3 linked regions of the Homo sapiens genome follow. The protein of the gene in region 1 purifies or fractionates together with the protein of each later gene. This does not show direct contact. Each region holds a gene or a part of one and is shown on either strand. Other genes may lie near its edges.

Region 1 (3,660 bases):
AATTTGGTGGCAGAAAAACATTTGAAAGATCATTCAGTTCAACTTCTTTATGTTTGCTGAATAAAACAAGCAAACAAAATTGAGCTTTAGTAATCATCTGTATAGATCATGAAATTAGTAAATAACATATTTTAAGGTCTCTTGGATAACATAATTTTAAAAGAATAATAAGTAAGGCCCGATATAAATATTAATATATTAGAAGGTGTTATATTAGAAATAGTACATTAAAATTAACCCATTTTAAAAAGTGTGCCTATAAAAACACGGCATAAGAAATGAAAAAAGGTTGTAAATGGACATATTATAAATAATTTTATAAATGTATTAACTTGTATATCATTTGAAGAACTTACATAGTAACCAATGGATAAATGAATAAAACCCATGCCCAAGTAATTAAAAGAAGAGGAAAAATAGTTAATATGTGAAAAGGTTTATTCTTGCTGGTCATCAAAAAAATTACAAGTTAAAATGATGTATTATTTCATACATAATATATAAATAATAAAAGTGATTTTCAAATGTTATTTCTTATCGCTGATAAATTTGTGGTAAAATGGTACTTTTATGCATTACTAGGATTCAAATGCCTGTTCAATCTGTTGTGAGCTATGAGACTTTAGAGTAGTCACTAAATCTTCCCACATGAGATAGTGTTAGTATTAAAATAGTGTGCAAATAAATAATTCCAAGAGAATTATTCTCTTAGTAATCATATATAATTATATATAATTATAAATAAATTAATAATAAATAATTTCTAAGAGAATTCTCTTAGAAAAGCAATTTAGTTTCAAGAAGTTTAAAACCTTATATCCTTTGATGACAGAATAATTCCACTCTTAAGAATTTATTTTCAGGACATAATTCAATAGAGAAAAAATGCTTAATACATTATGTATAATTCAAAAATCAGAAATAATTCAAATGTTCAGCAGAAGAGTTCATTTATTTATTGTATGTCAATTCTACCTATCTAAAATTCTAAATTCTACCAACTTTTTAGAGACTAAAATGTAGCTAAAAATACCTTTTAAAGCTATACAAATGTAGAAATTTCTTATGGTATCTTCTTAAAAGAATACAAATCTCTTTATACCATAGTATATGTTTCTGCAAAAGCTATGTCTTCATATAAACAATGATTAGAAGACAACATGGAAAAGCGGAGTGAAGTCAGCATGATGGGTGTGATAGCATTGTGACTGATGATATTTTGAATTCTCTTTAATGTTTAGGTAACATAAAAGCATTAATAGAAAAATTTAAAACACCACATCCGGAATTTAGGAAAATAAAACACTCCCGGGGCAAATGAGTCATACACAAAATACTTTTACCCAATAGATTTGCTTTTGACTTTAGACCTTGTTAATATGGAATGACTGATGTGGAAATCCATTAGTCTTTTAAAGTTCATCAGATGGCCGGGTGCGGCGGCTCAAGCCTGTAATCCCAGCACTTGGGGAGGCTGAGGCGGGCGGATCACCTGAGGTCAGGAGTCCGAGACTAGCCTGACCAACATGGTGAAACCCCATCTCTACTAAAAATACAAAAAAAAATTAGCTGGGCATTGTGGCGTGTGCCTGTAATCCCAGCTACTCGGGAGGCTGAGGCAGGAGAATTGCTTGAATCCAGGAGGCGGAGGTTGCAGTGAGCCGAGATCACGCCACTGCACTCCAGCCTGGGCGACAAGAGCGAGACTCCATCTCAAAATAAATAAATAAATAAATAGATAAAGTTCATCACATATATTGAGTAAATATCTCCCACCCCCAATTTTTACCTCAAGGAGGGCATCGAAATCTTAGCTTTTTGAGGTAAATGGCAAAAATGGAGGCAGGTAATAAAAACATAAAAAGGATTCCACTGAATCATTATTTTAATAAACGTTTCCTCTTTCCTCTTACCGGTTCAGTGTATGAAAACCCCAGACCTTCTGCAGCTGATTTTATCAGCTCAGACTCCAGCTTATGACGTTTCACAAACATTGTTAAATCCTAGAGAAAAAGAAGTAAAGAAAGACATTTTTTATTTAAATAGCAGGTAAGAGATATGATAAATGTTCAGGTGGCAATATTTTCATTAGATAGTCACAAATGAGCTAACAAATATTCAGAACTGCAAGACTTGGCCCCATCTCAACATACTTTCACACGCTAGCATGTATGAATAAAAATGTGCTTCAGGCATAAATAAAGTTTGAAAGAACCGAGTTCAACAACCTTTGCTAAATTGTTAGACATCTTTAAGACCAGTGTCATATTTTTATCAACTCTCCCCCGAACACATGCAGAATCAAGAATTTCTTTTCAGGCCAGGCGCGGTGGCTCACGCCTGTAATCCCAGCACTTTGGGAGGACGAGGCGGGCAGATCACCTGAGGTCGGGAGTTCGAGACCAGCCTGACCAACATGGAGAAACCCCGTCTCTACTAAAAAAAAAATACAAAATTAGCCGGGTGTGGTGGCATGTGCCTGTAATCCCAGCTACTAGGGAGGCTGAGGCAGGAGAATCGCTTGAACCCGGGAGGCGGAGGTTGCGGTGAGCCAAGATTGTGCCATTGCACTCCAGCCTGGGCAACAAGAGCGAAACTCTGTCTTAAAAAAAAAAAAAAAAAAAGAATTTCTTTTCAAAACATTGGTCTCACCTCTCTGGCCTCAATGGATGCCGGGTCAATGCTATCATCCAGCAGACTCTCATAGTAATCCACATTGTCTAGGACATCCTCATCATCTGGATGGCATAGAAGATAGGCTTTGGCACACTCCAGGGCTTTCACATACTCACCAACTGAAAGACAAAGGAGTTGCAGCATTAGAGTCAGCCTAGGTCTGTCCAAAGGATTTTAAAGGGAGGCCATCAACGTGTCTACAAAGGTCAGCATTAAACATGAATAAGAGGGAAGATAAATTGAGGCTCAGCAGAGAAAGCAGAAACAGTCACAGATAAAAGGAAAGACATGATTTCAAGTATTCAAAAGTTATTACCTTTGGTCTGCTTTGGTACTAGTTGTTTTGTGCAAATCGTCAAGTTTCTATCTGAAGATGTTTGTTGACAACTTTTATTATTTAACACATATAAACAGCAGAATTCTATGAGTTAATTCTGATTTTTGTACCGAGTTTGGGTTAAGTAAACATCCTGAAGGTGATCTTTGCAACAGTAATGTACCATTTTATATATAATGTATGAGTAACATAAGTGCTTTTAAAATGTTATTTTTCATTGCTGCAGTTTGTGGTAAACTGGTACTTCAATGCAAAGTCCTTCATAGAGTCCCAGATGTTCTGGAGGAAGCCCCTTAAATCCTTCACTATACAATTATAGCACATCCTACAGTAGCAAACTACTAAAAGGAACTAACAAGGATGTTTCCAATATAAACTTTTCATTATAGAAATATTTAGCTATTACAAGGGAAATTTTAAATGTCTGTATGCCTTGTTTTCAAATAGTTCACAACATTGTATTTCTTCTAATGGAAATTTACAATATACGTATGTGTGTATATATATGTGTGTGTGTGCATGTATGTGTGTATAATAAATACATACACACACACACACACATATATATATACTCTGAGATGACTCTGATTTTTAAAAGGAATGATAAAAATTAAGCAACTCTCTCATCTTTGATTCACTGTTTATGA
Region 2 (2,522 bases), on another chromosome or scaffold:
ATAAGGGTTGGTGACTTGTAACCATTAGTGTAGTAGTTATAGACAGGTGGGCAAAATGTCTGCCGGCAGAAATTTTGTTCTTGTTGCTTAAGGAACAAAACTGGCTGACCCAGAGTGAGGGCAGAGATATCACCAATCTTGAGCCCAGAGTTTTACCTTTCCAATCACAGCTTTGCTTGGATTACACAAGATTGCTTCTAAGGAATAAATAGATGCCTTTATAGTATGTTACCTCAGTGACTTGAGCCACATTGTCCTGATTAAACTAATAGGATGATGGATTCTTAAGAGTAGTATTTTTCAGCTTGGAAAAAATGTTGCCTTGTGATTGACAAAAAAATTGCTTGCCTTTTTAAAATGTAATTCAAGCCATCAAAACAATTTTAAATATTATAACCAAAAACATGTCAAGACAATAAATAGTAACTGCAGAATATTTGTTCAAACTGCATATTTCTCTGTCACCTGCTTCTTTCCCTCCCAGGAGAAAATTACAACTTTGGGGTGATTTTGTCATTTTTCTATCCCTAGTCATCAGCCCTTGACCCTGACTCAGATTGCATGTGGTTTTGTGGGTACCTCTTCACAGTCAACAATGAGTGGTTGGGTCTGTGGGAATAAAGATGCATCACCAATATAGGGACATATCCATGACAACTGTAAAAGCCACCCATCACTTTATTGTCCTACTTTTTTATTAACTTTGAACAATGAAAAGCCTTGAAAGAATGGTTGAGAACAGCAAATTGCTGCTTTCAAATTAATTCAGCCTAAAAATCTATTGATGTTATTTTATTGCGTCGTAAATAAGGAGTAGGTAAAACATTTTGTGCTTTAATAAGTGAGGCACAGCTTAAAAGTTTTAAACAGCAATATAAAAATACAGTACAGTGCATAAATAAATAATATATCTCCACTTCTAGTCGAATTTTGAAACCCTCAGTGTAAATTATAACTTCACTTGAATGGGAGGCACAAGGTACATGTGCTAATGTTCTGTAAATCCAGAAAATCATATCACATAAGATTCAATAAGGAATTAAAGAAATCAAATTAATCACACTTGTGTTAACTAAATAAGAATAGGTCAGATACCTGTTTCCAAGTTATGCTGGGTATATAAAAAGCTTCTCTGCAATCATAGAAAAGTTTGAAAAGGTTCATTGATGAAAGCACCTTGCATTTCAGATGAACTTCAATATTTTGGGGCTTTTTTATATAAGAGCTTTAACAAGTATATATGCACCTGTATATTTGAATAGATATTGATGAAAGGGGCCATACAGGCCTCAGAGTAGTGCACCATCAGAAATATTTTAGGGGATACAGTGTCTTTTAAATTTGAATATTCAAGTATTTAAGTTCTACAAAGTTATATGATACCTCCTGGATGTTTCCTAGAAGTTCTCATATTCATAGTTAGAAACAGGCTTTTTTAAAAAGGAAATGCCGAGTTTCTCAAATCAAATTTCACATAACTTAGAGCTCTATTTCTGTTTTTTTTTTTAATTTTTTTTTTGTTGTTTGTTTTTTGTTGTTTGTTTTTAACATAGCAGGACTTCTTTGGTGATATTTTTTAATATTGGAGAAAACCTTAAAGAGCCTTAAGATTGCTAACTAGAAATTCAAGAGAGGCTTCACATACGTTTTTACGTTGCTGCTCACTTTTCAGGGGGAAGGTTTGTTGGTCTGATAGCTCAAATCTGTATTTCAGAAAATAAAAATTACATTCTTTTCAGCCTACCTCCATATGCATTTTGTAGGGTGGGGTAGAGTTAGAGAATGCTTTTTCTAGCACAAGATTTAGATTAGCTCTGTGTGTACTCACATTGGAGCCACTAGGAATCCTGAGAAAGAGGAGTGGACATACTCAGAGGAGTATAGGCCATTTGACTCGGCATTGGGAAGCTGGAGCCACACCTGGTCATTTTCTGTGAGATCGATGATGGCACTCCCTGAAGCCTGATCCAGGTAGCCTTTGGTGTATTCATCATAGGTGTACATTACAGGGGTGCCATTCTTATACAGGCCTACCCAAACATGAGTCCCTTTCACATGCACGTGGTATGAAAAATAGTATATTCCTGGTATCTGACAAGTAAAGATTCCAGTCCTTGGGTCATAATGCTGTTGCCTGTTATACAAAATTTTATCAAATGGTATGGGAGTTCCTATTGCTGGGTAAGCTTTGGAGAGAATAACAGTAAAAGCAGACACAGGCATTCCTGTTACCCCCTGGTTGGCACTAACAAGAGGGGTCCCAGAAAGACTGGGCCTTTGGCCTGCCTTTATAAAACCCTCAGGCATGACTGCTTGACCTGGTGGGCCTGGAGGCCCAGGGGGCCCTGGAAGACCAGGCTCTCCAGAGTGGCCTCTTGGACCTGGAGGCCCTGGTGGCCCGGTGGGTCCATTGAGGCCCTTAGTTGCTATGCCAGCTGGGCCAGGAGGACCGGGACTTCCTGGATCCCCTTTAGACCCAGGGAATCCTGGAATGCCTGGTGGCCCAATAGGGCCTCTAGTAC
Region 3 (4,183 bases), on another chromosome or scaffold:
AGGAATGTAGAGATGAGTGAGCCCCAGGTCACAGGGACAGGATGTGGCTGGGAAAATGGGCATGTCCAGAACAAAGAGAGGTGCCTGGGTTGATTCTATCTGAAGATAAACAGGGGAAGGGCTCTAAGAAAAAAACTTCATCTTACGATGAGATATTAAATGAAAATTTTTGAATGCAATTTAAAAACTGTGGAAAGTACAATGGTCATGGTTGTGCTTTTGCAAATCGCCAGTCCCTGGGGTCAGGAAGGGAGCAGGCAGCAGTGGCATGGACAGGCTGAGGCCGGCCTCGGGGAGCCACGGAGGGGAGAAGGGCTGTCACCTGGGGGTGATGCAGGAAAAGTCGATGAAGAGAGAGGGAAAGATGAGAAAAATTTAGAGTGAAATCACCAGGACTGGGTGACATGGTGCATCCAGGAGGATGGAGAAGAGGATGAGTGTTCAGAGTCTGCCCTTTGTGACTGTCACGTTCCCCGCCAAGAAGCTGCCGAGTGAAGTGTGGGCTCGTCTGGGGAAAAGTGCCGGGTTCAGCCTTGGTTGTGTTGGGTTTGAATTCTCATTGTGGAAATCGGTGTGTGGAGGTGATGCCTGCACTCCCAGGGTGACCGCAGCGCTACTCACAGCTGCCAAGACCTGGAAATAACCTGAGTTATATAACCACCACCAAATGAATGGATGAGGAGAATGTGGTGTATATATGCAATGGAATATTATTCAGCCCTAAAAAAGGAAGGACATTCTGTCATTCACAACAGCATGGATGAACCAGAGGACATTATGCTAAGTGAAATAAGCTGGGTACAGAAAGACAAATACCGCATGTGGAATCTAAAAAAGTTCATCTCGGCCGGGTGCAGTGGCTCATACCTGTAATCCCAGCACTTTGTGTGGCCGAGGTGGGTGGATCACCTGAGGTCAGGAGTTCAAGACCAGCCTGGCCAACATGGTGAAACCCCATCTCTACTAAAAACACAAAAATTAGCTGGGCGTGGTGGCATGCACCTGTAATCCCAGCTACTCGAGAGGCTGAGGCAGGAGAATCGCTTGAACTTGAGAAGTTGAGTTTGCGGTGAACCGAGATTGTGCCATTGCACTCCAGCCTGGGTGACAGAGTGAGACTCCATCCCAAAACAAACAAACAAACAAAAAAGGTCATCTCACAGAGTTAGAGATTAGAATGATGCTATTAAAGTCGGGAAATGGGGGGCTTGGGAGAGACACTGATCAAATGGTACAAAGTTTCGGTTAAACAGGAGGAGTAAGTTTTTGAGATCTATTGCATAGCAGGCTGACTATAGTTAATAATAACTTATTATATATTTCAAAATTGCTAAAAGTAGGTTTTAAATGTTCTCATCACAATAAGTATGTGATGTGATTGATATGTTATTTAGCCTTATTTAATCTTTCCACAATGTTTACATACGTTGTAACATCACATCGTGCCCCACAAACATATACAATTATTTGTCGATTAAAAATAAGATTTTTGGCTGGGCACAGTGGCTCATGCCTGTAATCCCAGCACTGTGGGAGGCTGAGGCGGGCGGATCATAAGGTAAGGAGTTCGAGACCAGCCTGGCCAATATGGTGAAACCCCATCTCTTCTAAAAATACAAAAAAAAAAAAAATTAGCCAGGGGTGGTGGTGGGTGCCTGTAATCCCAGCTACTCAGGAGGCCGAGGCAGGAGAATCGCTTGAAACTGGGAGCAGAGGTTGCAGTGAGCCGAGATTATGCCACTGCATTCTAGCCTGGGTGATGGAGTGAGACTCCATCTCAAAAATAAAAATAAAATAAAATATAGGATTTTTGAAAATAAGAAAAGCAAAACATGACAGGTGGAGAATGAAGGAGAGAAAGGGGTGAGGGTTATGCATTTTACATTTGGAATAGTTTGCAATCTAGGGTATATTTAAAGGGATCTCTCCAGGCCCTCTAAGAATCAACATCACTCCCACCCAGCACTGCCTTTGGGGTGACAGAGGGGACTGGGAAGACGGGACGAAGGCATGACTTACCCTCCTGCGTGTGGATGGTCTGGGCCAGGCAGAGCACTGGAAGAGAAGCCCCAGTGAGAAAAATGCCCACTGCCCAGTCTCCTTACAGGGCTGCTGTCAAAAGGGGGCTTGACGGAGCTGGGGGGCATTCAGCATTTCATAACGACCAAGCCAACCCTCCTCGACATCACTGTCTCCATGTAATCCTTCTTGCTGCAAAATGGTTTCAAGATAAATCCCAAAGTCTCCTCTTCCAAAAAGGCTCCTGCTCCCCCAGCCCTTCTTTTTGGTGTTGTTGGAGACGGAGTTTTGTTCTTGTCGCCCACGCTAGAGTGCAGTGGCGCGATCTTAGCTCACTGCAACCTCCACCTCCCGGGTTCAAGCAATTCTCCTGCCTCAGCCTCCCGAGTAGCTGGGATTACAGGTGCCCGCCACCATGCCCGGCTAATTTTTGTATTAGTAGAGATGGAGTTTCACCACGTTGGCCAGGCTGGTCTCAAACTCCTGACCTCAGGTGATCCACCTGCCTCAGCCTCCCAAAGTGCTAGGATTACAGGTGTGAGCACCGCGCCTGGCCCCCCAGCCCTTCTTAAAGCTGACCTCATCCCCACACCCGGGCCCCTGTTTTTAGGACAAGGTTGTCTCTGATCAGACTTAGGCCCCAGGGAGAGCAGTAGGGCAGTCTTGGGGGGAGGAGGACACTTTCCTCCCCAGAATCTTCTGGACTAGAGTCAGGCTTGAGCAGGGAACTTTCCAGACCTCCCGACCCCCTTTCCAGTCCTTCCCGCTCCCTCCAGGACTCACCTAGGCCCAGGAGAGCAGTGAGGTGTGGAGACATGGCCCCGGTCCCAGAACTCTGCAGCAGACACAAGCAGACAGGATGTGCTGGCCGGGGGCCTCCTGCCCGTGGGGCTTCCACAGCAACTGCCTCACACAAGAGGGAGAGCTTTCTGTTCTGTTCTTTCCACCCTTCCCACTAGTGAGATGAGAGGGAGGGCCTTGGTTTCTGAAAAATGTCGCTTACCCGCATGATCAGATGACCTTAAACTAGTTACCCGATGTGTCAGCCTCTTTCTAAATCTATGGGACAAGACAGAATAAAGGTCGTGCAACCAACTGACTTGGATGTCATCCCAACTCCACACGTTAACGACCACCGCTCTTGGGCAAGATGTTACAAAACTAGAAGTCGACATGTCCTCGTATTTAAAATAAGAGTCATAGAAATCCTTCCCCAAGTTTTTAATATTGTGATCTCTGCTAAAATCTCAGCAAGGTATATAATGCATTAAAAAAGATCCTACAGTGCGCCGGGCGCGGTGGCTCACGCCTGTGATCCCAGCACTTTGGGAGGCTGAAAAATTGTGCACTCACTATAGAGAACAGTGGGGAGGTTCCTCAAAAAACTAAACATAGAGCTACCGTATGGTCCAACAATGCCACTTCTGGGTCTATATTTAAAAGAAACAAATTCAGTATGCAAAGAGCCGTCTGAACTCCCCTGATCACTGCAGCACTATTCGCAATAGCTAAGACGTGAAAATCATCTAAATGTCCATTGATAGAAGAATTGATATAGAAAATGTGGTGCACACACAGGGGAATACTATTCAGCCTTAAACAAGGAAGAAAATTCTGCCATGGGCGACAACACAGACGAAACCTGAGGACATCACGCCAAGCGACGCAGATGCAGAGACCAAGTACTGCATGATGTCACTTACAGGAGATCTGCAAAGTCACCAGAGTCACAACATCACAGCAGGGAATGGTGGTTACGGGGGCTGGGAGGAGGGGGAAATGGGGAGTTATTAACAAACAGGCCTAGAGATCTGCTGCACCACATACGACCCATCGTCAGCAATAACGTCTTGTTCACTTGAAATTTGTTAAGAGGACAGAGCTCATGTTAAGTGTTCTAACAATGATACATAATAATAAATATTATATATAAATAATTATAATTATTACATCTAATAATAATATAATTAATATAATATTATTAGTTAAAATTGTTTATCTATTTTATACAGTCATTACATATATAATTGTTTATATATAATAATACAGCAAATACTATATATATGCAAGTTTATATATAATTGTTAATATATATAAACTATTATAATTATACATATACAATTAACAATTTGTGTGTGTGTGTGTGTGTGTGTATGTGTGTGTG

Evidence for each region.
Region 2: the proteins of P3H2 (region 1) and COL10A1 purify together in Homo sapiens (co-immunoprecipitation; one large-scale study listed by IntAct). This does not show direct contact.
Region 3: the proteins of P3H2 (region 1) and LAIR2 purify together in Homo sapiens (co-immunoprecipitation; one large-scale study listed by IntAct). This does not show direct contact.

Annotation. Positions count from the first base shown.
Region 1 is NC_000003.12:189,984,875-189,988,534, forward strand, and holds part of P3H2 (prolyl 3-hydroxylase 2 isoform a precursor), read right to left. Parts: intron 2,796-3,660; coding exon 2,653-2,795; intron 2,004-2,652; coding exon 1,914-2,003; intron 1-1,913. UniProt on the Homo sapiens protein: Prolyl 3-hydroxylase that catalyzes the post-translational formation of 3-hydroxyproline on collagens. Contributes to proline 3-hydroxylation of collagen COL4A1 and COL1A1 in tendons, the eye sclera and in the eye lens capsule.
Region 2 is NC_000006.12:116,118,249-116,120,770, forward strand, and holds the end of COL10A1 (collagen alpha-1(X) chain precursor), read right to left. Parts: coding exon 1,825-2,522; 3' UTR 661-1,824; downstream 1-660.
Region 3 is NC_000019.10:54,501,572-54,505,754, reverse strand, and holds the start of LAIR2 (leukocyte-associated immunoglobulin-like receptor 2 isoform a precursor), read right to left. Parts: upstream 2,925-4,183; 5' UTR 2,837-2,924; coding exon 2,803-2,836; intron 2,056-2,802; coding exon 2,020-2,055; intron 1-2,019.